Linked DNA regions of Homo sapiens: region 1 is linked to region 2. A link means that fine-mapping ties the variant in region 2 to the expression of a gene that starts in the linked region. Tissue or cell type: whole blood. Region 2 holds a variant in brackets; the other region holds the start of a gene. All regions are shown on one strand. Distances are from middle to middle.

Region 1 (5,000 bases), 66 kb after region 2:
ACCTAAAATTCCCACTCTGCTGTAAGCTCCTTAAGGACAACTCTTGGGTCTGCATCATCCTTTTAGTCCACACATTTCTCTGAACATGGTATTCAACAGGATCTGTTGAATGACTGACTGAATAAATGAATGAATGAATGAAATGCAAATTCAGCACAGGTGGTAACAGGGAAATGATCTACTGGGATACAGCTATTGTCTGTTCTTCTTTCATGGGAATTTGCGCTTGTCTGAAAATTCAGGACCACAAAGTAAACAAATCCAGGCAATCTTCTCTCACTGATGCTTATAAATGTTTGGCCCAGGAAGGCAGATGTAGATAGAGCCCAGTTTAGATTTTGGAGCCTGGAAAACAGATCTTCAAGATCAAGGGCTGTTCATTCTTCATTCTCAGGAGCTGTTCAAGTTCTTGGGATTGGCAGATCTATATTGGACTCTTAGTGCTGCCATTATAGTTTTTGTAAATTATTTAACCTACCTAAGCTTCAGCGTCCTCGTTGGCAACTTGAAGATACCCATAATAGCATCTACCTTATAGGGCTGCAGGAGGATAAATGAGACCCAGAAATGAAGCGCTTACCATAGTGCTTGGCAAATAGTACTCAATGTCAACAAAATAAGATAAATAAAGTACTATTAAAATGAATAAAAATATCCATTTCAGGGGATGCGTTCCAGAAGAATTGGGCATAAGTCAAATCTCACTTAAAATATAGAAAGAAAACTTGGTCCTCAGAACTCCTTAGAAATGTTTTACAAAAGTAAGTGAATAATTAGCCCCAACTTATCAATCCACTTTTTTTTTCTTTTTTTTTTTTTTTGAGACGGAGTCTCGCTCTGTCGCCGAGGCTAGAGTGCAGTGGCGGGATCTCAGCTCACTGCAAGCTCCGCCTCCCGGGTTCACGCCATTCTCCTGCCTCAGCCTCCCGAGTAGCTGAGACTACAGGCGCCCGCCACCACGCCTGGCTAATTTTTTTTTTTTTTTTTTTTTTTGTATTTTTTAGTAGAGACGTGGTTTCACCGTGTTAGCCAGAATGGTCTCGATCTCCTGACCTCAGGTGATCCACCACCCTCAGCCTCCCAAAGTGCTGGGATTACAGGCGTGAGCCACCATGCCCGGCCCCACATTTCCATATATCAGATTTACTGAAAAACTTTTTTTTTTTAATTTCCCCTATCCGAGTGGACCCGCCCAATCAAGTCAGTTAACTTTCCTTGGCCGGGGGCGGAACCAAGGTGTTGCGGTAATTTCCTGGCCTGCCACGACTGCTTGCTTGCGTAAGGGCGTCTTTGGGTATGTTGCCATTCTAATGAAAATTCAGCTCCAGCCCCGTCGGTGGAACAGATCCCGGGCACCACTGGGCAGAGACTAGATGTTTCAAACGCCTGCCCCCCAGCAAGCAGGCCGCGCAAAGGGCAGGAGTTCGGAACCAAGGCAAACTAGGGGGCGGGGAGAAAAGATTGGCACCCGCCTGCTGAGATCTGCCAACCTGACGCCCCAGGGGGATGGGTGCTCTCGCCACCCTTGCCCCACAGTGTCGGGCTCCGAGCCAGCGGGAAGCGCCAGTCCTAGCCGAGAATAGCAGAGGAGCGGGCGGGATGCGAGGGGGCTCTGGGCGAGGCGGCGGCAGTCTAACCTTTCCTGCTTAAGGCGACAGCACTCTGCGCCGTAATCGTATCTTCCAAGGCTGCAAGGTTAGGGCAAATGTCAGACGCCTCGGGAGGGGCGGGGGACGGGGAGAGGGAAGGCAGCGGCTAGAGACGGAGAGTCGGGCGTGACCTTGGGAGGCTCCGCGCCCGCACCTCCCGGCGCCCCGGGAGTCAGGCGAGCAGGTCTGCCGGGTCCCGTGGCCACTTTCCCCAGCCCGGCGACCTCCGTCGGGCCTCCAGGCCAGAAGAGCGAGCGCGAAGGAGAGGGAGGAGCGGGAGGTGGAAACCGAGGCGGCAGCGCGCGGAAGCGGCCGGCCCCGAGCGAGGGAGGGCGCCGCGGGCCGCACGTCGCACACGCGCCAGGGTGCACAGCGGCGCGGGGCCGCGCATCCCTTACCCCGTTGGCGGCAGCGATGCGAGCGATGAGCTGGATGGCCTCCTTCATGTAGAACCGGCCGTCCCCGCCCACCACCAGCGTGGCCTCCTGCCGCTGCGCCGGCTCCACGGTGGAGATGATACTCTGGATGAAGTTCTCCGCGTAGTTGGCGCTGCTCTGGAACACCTTCACCCGCTTCCGCAGCCCGCTCGTGCCCGGCTTCTGGTCCTGGTACGCCTGGGTCTTAACTGTCACGATCTTCACCATGGTGGCGACTTGCTGCCGGGGGTCAGAGCGGCGGACTTGGCTGGCGGAGGGGCGGCCGGCTGAGGCTGCAGCTGCTCTGGGGTGAGGGCACGGCGGGTGGGGGCTACGCCGCACTCTAGGCCGGCGTTTGGCCCTCCTCCTTAAAGGGACAGGGGACAGGGCCCTCCCTCCGCGCCAGCCCACCTCCTGGCAGGTCCGGCGGGAGGGGAAAGGGGAGCGCCGGTCTCTAGGCCTCCTGTGAAATGGGTGGAGCCTTACTGATTTACTCTCCCCTTCGGAATCCTATCCACTGTAAAAAGAGGCCCGCAACTCCTCCTCTAAGTGTTGGGGCAGAGGTTGGGGTAGGAACCCGGTCATAGGGCAAGGACGTGAGGCAGGGTGGAAAAAAGTACAGGGTAGAATGATTTCCAGTGGTTTGGCGAATGCATCGTGTGTAAATAGCTTTCTGGAAACCTGTTGGGAGGGTCAGAAGTGCCAGCCCCAGCTCGATTTCATGAGTCGTAATTCTTTCTATTTCTCCCTAAATGTGAGGGCATTTGAGTTCCGTAAAGGAGTCGACTCCAAATGTTTCCTGCTGCACCACACACTTGACTACCATTGGTGACGGTGACTTAGCTATGACTTGCTGAGTGTAGCGTTTCTAAACCTTACTAAACTCTGGGTTTTATTTTTCCCCTTTTTATGCTTACAAAACTGAAATTCAAAGAATAAAATGCCTTGTCTCATTGCCACACAGCTAAGTCCATGCGGGAGGCCAATTCAGGTGGTCTGGCTCCAAAACCAGGGCTCTTCCCATGATTTGCCCGCTGTGACACCAGGTTGGCAACTAGGAAATGTACAAGCAGGACTTGACAAATGTAGGAGCAAATATATGGTAAGGATAAGTATGAACACCATCAAAATTAGCCAGTTACTCATGTAATAGAAATAAAGTGAGGAGATCAACAAACAAGGACTGACATGGCTGGAAAAGTTTCACGGGGGATAGCAAGGTCAACCAAGGGGATTTGATTATTAAGTAGGAATCTTCAGTCTTTCTTGCTTTTCGGTTTAGTATCTCCCTTAATTTGATGAGAGTGATTGTCTCCTCTGTTCAAGAAACCTGTCATTTTGGTAAAGTGGCAAAAAACTTGGCTTTACAAGGTGTGTGCTCTTGGGAAAGTTAGTTAATGTCCGTGGGCATCAATTTCCTTACTGTAAAATAAACATATCACCTACTTTGGAATATTTTTGCAAGATTTAATGGGGTTTTGTATGTCAGAAATTCTCAGTCATGGATACACAGTAGAATCCTACTGTGACCCATGCTCACAGTAGAATTACTTGAGGTGGTTTCTAAATGACCCAGTCCAAACAAATTCAATCATAATCAGCTGTTAGAAGTAAATCATCTAGCCTGGTGCCTGAAACATAGAGGCCTTCAAAAATATTAGCTCCCCTTCCCCAATTCCAAAACCAGAGCATATCATTCACCTGTGAATTATATTCTTTTGGTAGTTAATTGGTATGTCTTGATCAAGCAGGGAGGCGAACAGACCCATAAGAGTGCAGACTCTCACAAACCAAGTGTTGATATACATGCTCATATAGTACATGCTATGTAGATACAGTGTGTTGATGTAGTCACTATAGATGAGTTTCGGTGGCAAATATTATGTGAAAACGGAACCCTGGACTGCTAGTAATGAGTTCTAATATTTGCACAGGAGTTTACAGAGCAGTGTAATCTTGTGAATTAAATAATATAATCAAGCCCATTTTATAGACGAGAGAATTGAGGATTGGATGGTGAATGTAATCAAGGTTATCTAACTCCACAAAATGAAAATATAGCATAGATTCACTGAGCCTTCAAAATACCTACCTTAGAGTTGTATGGTTTAGATAGAGAATATACAGCTCCTACCACAGTGCTAATAAGTAAGTCATCAATAAATGATAACTTGTAAAGTCACGGGCCCAAATTCAGATCTCATGCCCTTTCTATATTCTTCAGTATCTTTGGAAATATGATGGAGCTTTTCATTTAAGAGGAATTGATCTATACTTCTCTCACCCCAGAAGTTGTAACAATTAGCTTTAACTGCATAACACACCAGTCTAAATCTGAGTGGCTTAAGACAACCCCCATTCATGATTATAGTTCATGATTCTATGAGTTAACTGGCAGTTCTGCTGTTCTGGACAGGGTTACTGTGGCCCCTTATACAGACCTAACATGATCCCCATGTTCCTTGCCTCCTGATAATCATGCCTTTATGCAATCCCCTTGTATTACAGATTGAGTATCCCTTATCCGAAATGTTTGGTACCAGAAATGTTTCAGATTTTAGATTGTTCCGGATTTTGGAATGTTTGCATTACAATGGTTGTGCATCCCAAATCCAAAAATCCCAAATTCAGAATGTTCCAATGAGCACTTCCTTTGAGTGTCATGTTGGCACTCAAAAAGTTTTGGATTTTGGAGCATTTTGGGTTTGGGATTTTTGGATTTGGGATACTCAACCCGTACTTTTCTACTGCTGTATGACAAATTACCACAAACTCAACAGCTGAAAACAACACCCATTTATGATGTCACAATTCTATAGATAAGAAGTCCCAATTCTATAGATCAAAAGGTTTGGCCAGGTTCAATCCTGGTAATCACGGATATATAACAGCTTATAAACATCAAGGAGAAAGTATTTTGACCTTCATTAAATTC
Region 2 (7,891 bases):
TGGAAGTTGCTCAAATCACTTGTCACCTGTAAAATTGAGACAATCCTGCCTTATAGGTCAGGGAGATTCCAGCATAATGAAACATTCTGCCGTGCAACTAGTAGATTTCATTCACTCATTCTGAAAATATTTAATGGGGCTTTTGCTATGTGCCAGACACAGGCCTAGATCCTGGGTAAACACTGGTGAAAAAGGCAGTCTCTGCCATGTAGGAGTTCCCAGGGCAGTAGAAGAAATGGAAAGTAAACAGGTTATGAACATAGAATGGGATAAGCGCCTCGAAGGGGGAAATAGAGGTGATAGGAACACCAGAAAAAGCTCCCAAACCAGACACTGGAGGCTCAGAAAGCACTTCTTGGAGGAAACGATGTTTAAATTGAGACCTGAGGAACAAGTAGGAGTTGGGAGAATATGGCGGATGGTGGAATGGAGGGGAAAGGTGGAGAATGTAGTGGAGGGTGGGATGGAGGGTAAAGGTGATTCAGGTGGAAAGAAGAGCAGCTTCCAAGGCCTGGGGGCAGGAGGGAGGTGCCATGGTTCCCCAAGACTGAAGCTTGGAATGTAAGGCTGTGAGTAGGGGGAGAGGAGCGGGAAGTGACAGGCAGGTGAGTCACACGGACCTGGAGGCTACACAAAGGCCTCTGCACTTCAACATTTGAAAGAGTACTTAGCTGGTGGTGTGGAGAATGGATCAGAAGGGGCAAGTGGGAAGGCCAGAAGGCCATGGGGTGCCCCCGCCAAAGCCCACAGGCCATGCAGTGAGTCCTGCATGAAGGCTGTTATACTCATATCCAACCCCCTCTGCTGGGGGGGTTCAGAACGCAGAAACACAAGGGGGGCACCTCTTACTCATGGTAATATGTTTTCTGGAGAATTCTTATAAGCAAGGCCAGCTTCTAATGAGTCAACAAGAAACGTTGAAGAAAGCAGCATGGCAGAGGAGGCAGAGGGACCCTGTCCTCAAGCCTGGCCTTGAAGGGCCAAGGAGATGACACTCCCCAGAACCACAGTGAGCTTGGCCTCTGCTTTCACTCCCTATGAGGCAGAGCCCAGCCACTGGAAGCCTGGCCACTGTGTAGGCCTGGGGCACATCGCTGAACAGGAAACTGCTTCTCTGAGAGAATAGCTGAATGTCAAGAGGGAGAGAAAAAGTGAAATTTCAGAATTGGGCCCCAAACAGTTCCAACCCAATTTTCTCACTGTAATTCTCACCACACCCCAAAGAAAACAAGCCTGACTCACAGACCACATCAACGCTGGAAGGCGGGGAAGCCTGGCTGGGTGCTGCTGCCCGCCTCTCAGGACTCCTCTCCCGCACTCCCTGGGGCACACACACTGCGGCATCTCTTTGGAAGCCCTGGAGAGACACAGTGATCCTTACTACCCACACCCACCTCCACTGCCCCATGGCTCCAGCCACCTCCTTCTTCCTCCCCTGAGCTTTTAACTTCCAAGCTGTTGCCAAGTGGAGGCAGGAAAAGCAGTTGAAATACGATCAGGGAGGAGGAAATTTTTGAAGCCATTCCAGGGGCCACAGAACTGGGAGTATCCGCAGCTGATTCAAGAGATGAGGAGGCAGAAAAGGGTCAGGAAACATGAACGATACTTAGGGTCAGAATTCCAGTTCCATCACACGGTAGCTGAGAACCTGGGGCAAATTAATGAGCTTCTGTTGAGCTTCAGTTGCCTCAACTGGAAAGCGAGAAGAATGATGTCTTGCTTCGAGGGTTACTGGAAAGCATCTAGCCCAACATCTGAGATAGAATAGGTGCTTGGAGAATATGTAGGTTTTACCTACACAACTCATAACATTTATCCCATACAGTTTCTACTTGTGCTAGATTCGATTCCCCTGGCAAGTCTTACAGGCAGCTTGATGGCATGGGCTCTGTGTTATACAGCTCTTCCTCCCAAGCACCTCACACTTAATGTGGATCAATACATATTTCCGGGCTGACTGATACATCCAGATATCCAGATCTCTGCAGGAGCTAATATAATGCCAAAATAACAGATTCTTTGGCATCCAGAGCACACAGTATCCCCCTTTAATGCGTAAAGCACAGGGGCATTTGCACACCTTTCTTCCACGTTAGGTGTAGCCTAGAAGTAGACAGTCCGTAGAAGAAATCTGAAGTGGTTTGAACCCTGTAGGGCTGGAGCTGCACTGTCTGGGAGCATCTACCACTCCCCAGCAGTGTGATCTTGGTTGAGTAACTGAACCTCATCTGTAAAATGGGAATATTCAGAGTACCTACCTCAGAGTTGTCAGGAAGATTTAAAGAATATATGGAAAGCGCTCAGAAAGAATATATGGAAAGTGCCTGGCAAGGGGTTAACGTTCCAGACAAACTCATCACCACCACCACCATCATTGTCATCATTGTCAAAGCATAGTTTTGTTTGCTGAGCTGGCAACAATGGAAATCTTACCCCAGATAAAGATCCTGCCACCTGTATCAGGGAGTCCATACTGAGTAGGGGAGGGGTACAGAGCTGGGCTGACTTTTTAGAATAGCCCATATGGCAAGGTGACTTTGTGAAAGTACCTTGGAAATGTAAAATGTGTTACAAATATTAGTGTTACAGTTTTTGTTTTTCCTGTATATACAGTACTTTAAAATCTAAAAATGGTATCATAAACATAATTCTAGTTTTCACTTATTTAACAATGTACCATGCACTAGATACTGTGCTCACTGCTTTACACAAATGTACTCACTTAAGGTACTCAACAATTCATAAAGGTAGAACTACTTTCATCCCCACTTTAAGGATAGGGTAATGATATTCAAAAGTCACTCAGGGTCTCAAGTGGGATTCAAACTTGGGTCTGTTGGCTCTCAAGTCTACGCTTATTTAACTATAATATACTCATGGATGGAATATAAGTGTTCTGAGCTGAATAAGATGCCAGTGGGCTCAGATTTTTGGCCAAATGTCAGTAACCCTGCTCTCAGATTCTGAGGGTTCTGCCTCCATCCCTTCAATAAGCGTCAAGGCATCTCCGCACTGCAGAGCACGTACCAGTGCTTTGCTATTTAAGCACTAGGAAGAGGAAAATCACTCTTCCTTTCCCTTGTTCCAAGTTAACCATGTCAAGCTTGATTTGTCTACCTTGGAAGAATCCAGAGCTCAGTTGACCCTGCTAAGATTTTAAATTACAATTCTCTTAAAATTTATGTTACTTTTTAGAATATTCAGGACAATAAAAAAAATTACAGTTCTTGAGTCTAAGGATTTGCAACCTAGCCTAGAGACCATTTCATTTTCTGACTAGGACATGAAAACAAAATACAATACTCCCCTCCTTCTAAAAAAAAAATTGTTTTTCTTTCTAAAATCAAAAAAGTACTTTGCAGTTAAGAAAAAAAGACGACAAGCAATTGTAGCTTATTTTCCTTTATTATCCCAAAATATCTGTGTGAATGGGACAATGTCGCAAAACAAGGCAGAAATCTGTAGCCAAGTACGTCTCACTCAGAGGAAAGAACTGATTGGACAGAAGGCACTAGAAATTGCATTTTGTTGGGTTACATGTAAACAGGAA[A/G]TGGGGGGAAAGATTCACAAAAGAGAAAGGAACTTGCACCATCATTTCATTGCCACATCCTAAGGATGAAGAATGGCCTCACTCACTGCTGATGCTCCACCTATAGCTTACATTGTAGTGTAAACTGTACCTGATGGCTAAGGAGACAAATACCCACGCAGCAGCAATGCAGGAGGGCATGAAAAGGAATTGAGATTGATCTAAGCCCGCAGGTCCTCTTTCCCTCACAGCTCCCAAGGGCATCTTGTTTGGCAGTGCCTTGTAAATGCACTGCTCGTCAACTGGTTAGTGAAAAAGTCAAATCCTAAAATGCTTGGTGAATACATTTTGTTTCTGTCATGCTCTTCAATCAGATGACTTGGATGGGTCCGGGGGTGGAGGGACGTACCACATCAGGCCTGTCTTCTTAGGTGATGACAGTGGGTGCAGTGCGTCCCGTCCTCTCCTGCAGCTGGGACACTTTCAGAGCAATGGAAATAAGGGGGGCCAACATGACCTGAGGAAGACATAGAGAGAAGCTTTTCCATCACTTCCTCTAAACACAGATGCTTAGCTCCAAACCCGTACGTCTGACTGCCTACTTCCAGGTCTCCAAGGCTCCTCAAACTCCACAAATCCAAAAACAAACACATGTTATTTCCCCCAATACCTAGTTCCAGCAGTTTCTATTTCAGTGGATCAACACTACAGTCTTTCATGTAAAGTGAACAACTAGGAGTTGCTCCTGACATCTTCCTCTGCATTTTCCCCATGCCCAGTCCATGAGCAGGCCTCAATGACTTTTCCCCGCTAAATCTCTCTCCATGGCCCCCTTTTCTCTCCACTCTCCTGCTGTTAAGTCTTGCTAAGTCAATGTCCTGTCTCTTACCTGGAGCAGTGAGTGCCTCCACATCCACTTGTGCATCTTCCAATTTCTTTCCCACACTGTTCCCAATGGGACTGATGTGGTTTGGCTCTGTGTCCCCACTCAAATCTCATCTTGTAGCTCCCATAATTCCCAAGTGTTGTGGGAGGGACCCGGTGGGAGATGATTGAATCATGGGGGTGGGTCTTTTCTGTGCTGTTCTCATGATAGTGAATGGGTCTCATGAGATCTAATGGTTTTAAAAACAGGAGTTTCCCTGCACAATTTCTCTCTTTTGCCTGCTGCCATTCATGTAAGACATGACTTGCTCTTTCTTGCCTTCCACCATGATTGTGAGGCTTCCCCAGCCACGTGAAGTGTAAGTCCAATTAAACCTCTTTCTTTTGTAAATTGCCCAGTCTCAGGTATGTCTTTATCAGCAGTGTGAAAACAGACTAATACAGGAATCTTTTTTTTTTTTTTTTGAGATGGAGTTTCACTCTTGTTGCCCAGGCTGGAGTGCAATGCTGCGATCTTGGCTCACCACAATCTCTGGCTCCCAGGTTCAAGCAATTCTCCTGCCTCAGCCTCTCTAGTGACTGGGATTACAGGCATGCGCCACCACGCCCGGCTAATTTTGTATTTTTAGTAGAGATGGGGTTTCTCCATGTTGGTCAGGCTGGTCTTGAACTCCCGACCTCAGGTGATCTGCCTGCCTTGGCCTCCCAAAGTGTTGGGATTACAGGCGTGAGCCACCGCACCCGGCCTAATACAGGAATCTTTAAAAATGCAACAACCCCTCCCCACATCTACTTCTCGCTTAAAGAAAAAAAAAAAAAAGAGAGAATTCTGTTGCTTAATAAATGCTTTCAATATTAAAAAAAAAAAAAAACTACTAATCTGGTTGAACTGCCCATTTTACAGATGAGAAAACTGATACCCAAAGAGATGAAGTGATTTGACTAAATGACTCAATAGCAGAGCCAGGAGTAGTACATTTTCTACTGCTGAATGCTACTTTTTCTTATCTAAATCTCCACCGATCCATTATACCTGGAAAAGGAGAATCAACTCCACCTGCTGAAACTACCACATTTCCCCTTAGGGCTTGGGCAGTCCCCACAAAGTGCTGATGGCCTAGCAGCTGCAGAATAAGGAAAGGCAGCTCCCCGGCTAGATGGTGATACACCTGGGCATTGTGGGAACCTCACACCATCCACTGCCATTCCACCTGCTGAGGACTATGGTTCAGAGGAAACAAATTTCATTCACTCTTTGAATCTACCACGTGCCAGGCATTTATCTTGATGATCAAAAGACAAACACAATTTCCTTCTTCCTTTTCTCTTGTGCTATTAAGTGTCTATAATGCAGACCCCATTGCCTTTGGTTGAAGTTTTAGGGATGCCTACAACACAACAAGGTACTGGTGATGACTGAAACTGGGGCCTGGCCACTGGAAAAAATGTAAAAGTGAAGCATTCTCTCATCTCCCACTTTCTGTAATAAAAGCAACTATACTACTCATGTGAGGTACCTACAATGGTCAAATTCACAGACACAGGAAGGAGAAAGGTGGTACCAGGGATTGTGAAAAGGGAGAAGCAGGGAGGTGCTGTTCAATGGGTACAGAGTTTTAGTTTTGGGGGAAAAAAGTTTTAGAGATACGTTGGACAACAATATGAATATGTACAACATTACTAAACTATATACTTAAAAATGGTTATAATAGCATTATGTTACACTTAAAGTTAGACTAAAAAAACTAAGAGTGCTGCTTATTCTGAAAAGTTAATCCTATATGCCAGCCACAGTGTTTAAACATTTTACATTTATTATCTCCTTAAACCCCGGTAACAACTAGATGAAGTAGGTATTACTCTGCCATTTGACAGACAAGGAAACCAAGATTCATAAAATTGTAACAACTTACCCAGGGACACACAGTTATTAAGTGGCAGGAATAGAATTTAAAACAAGATCTCTTTAACTTTGCTCAAAACCACTATGCCAGGGGTTTCCAAATGAGTTTCACAGGATTTTAATTAGGTGTTAAAAGAAAAAAGCCTTTGTGGAAAAATAAGCATGGCAAATGCTATTTATTTTATTTTACTTTCAATTTTTTAATAAAAATTGTTTATGTTTAAGGTATATAATATGATGTCTTGATATACAAATACATAGTGAACTGATTACTAGAGTCAAGCCAACTAACATTATCAATCTTGTCACCTACTTACCTTTTTTGTTGTGGTGGTGATAGTGAGAACAATTAAGATCTATTCTCCTAGTACATTTCAAGTGTTATTCATTATAGCCATCATGTTGTACATTCCATCTCTAGAACTGCTACATCCTACATAACTGAAATTTTGTACCCTTTGGACCAATATCTCTCCATTTTCCCCATTCACTACCCCCTAGTAAGCCCCTTTCTGCTCTGTTTCTATGAGATTCACTTTTTTTAGATCCCACATACAAGTGAAATCATGCAGTATTTGCCTTTCTGTGTCTGGCTTATTTCACTTAGCATAATGTCCTCCAGGTTCATCCATGTTATTGCAAATGGCAAGATTGGCAAGATTTTGGTTTTTGTTGTTTTAAGGCAGAATAATTTTCCATTGTGGTATACACACACACACACACACACACACACACACACACACCACAATGTCTTCATTCATCTGTAGATGGGCACTTAGGCTGGTTCCATATCTTGACTATTGTGAATAATATTGAATGAACAAGAGAGAACAGATATCTCTTTGACATATTTATTTCAGTTCCTCTGAATATATACCCAGAAGAGGGATTACTGGATCGTATATTAGTACTAAAATATTTTTAACTTTTTGAGGAACCTCCATATTTTGGTTATTCCAAAATAGCTATACCAATTTATATTCCCACCAATAGTGTCTGATGGTTCCCTTTTCTCCACATCCTTCCCAACACTTGTTATCTTTTGTCTTTTTGAGAACAGCCATCCTAACAGGTGTGAGGTGACAGCTCATTGTGGTTTTGATTTTCATTTCCCTGATGATTAGTGATGTGGACCACCTTTTCATACGCCTGTTGGCCATTTGTATGTTTTCTTTGGAGAAATGTCCTTCAGCAAATGCTATGTAAACAGGCACCTTTACTGCAAGTCTTCTCAGCACCCTCTTTTTTTCTTTCCTTTTCTTTTTTTAGAGATGGGGTCTTGCTATGTCACCAGGCTGAAGCGCAGTGGGTATTCACAGGTGCAATCCCACTACTCATCGGCATGGGAGTTTTGACCTGCTCTGTTTCCAACTTGGGCCGGTTCACCCCTCCTTATGCAACCTGGTGGTTCCCCTCTCGGGAGGTACCATATTGATGCCAAACTTAGTGCAGACACCCGACAGGCATAGCACACTATAGCCCAGAACTCCTACGCTCAAGTGATCTTCCTGCCTCAGCTTCCTGAGTAGCTGGGACCACAGGTGCAGGCCACCATGTCCGAAATCTTGGAGCCT

What was found. PIP is the estimated chance that this variant, and not a neighbour inherited with it, causes the effect.
Region 1: it holds the start of PGM1, and the variant in region 2 is fine-mapped to the expression of PGM1 in whole blood (INTERVAL, PIP 0.98).

The regions. Positions count from the first base shown.
Region 1 is chr1:63,590,782-63,595,781 of GRCh38, reverse strand. It overlaps PGM1 (phosphoglucomutase 1), which reads right to left and starts at 2,371. Exons shown (of 11, transcript NM_002633.3): 1 at 2,048-2,371. The coding sequence starts at 2,293. RefSeq lists enhancers at 1,335-1,394, 2,095-2,384 and a silencer at 1,755-2,054.
Region 2 is chr1:63,655,741-63,663,631 of GRCh38, reverse strand. PGM1 (phosphoglucomutase 1) reads right to left here. Exons shown (of 11, transcript NM_002633.3): 11 at 3,387-4,046. The coding sequence ends at 3,957. It also overlaps the pseudogene RN7SL130P. Among named protein-coding and RNA genes, the nearest start is that of PGM1, 66 kb to the right of the region's middle. The variant A/G (reference allele first, on the strand shown) is at 3,551.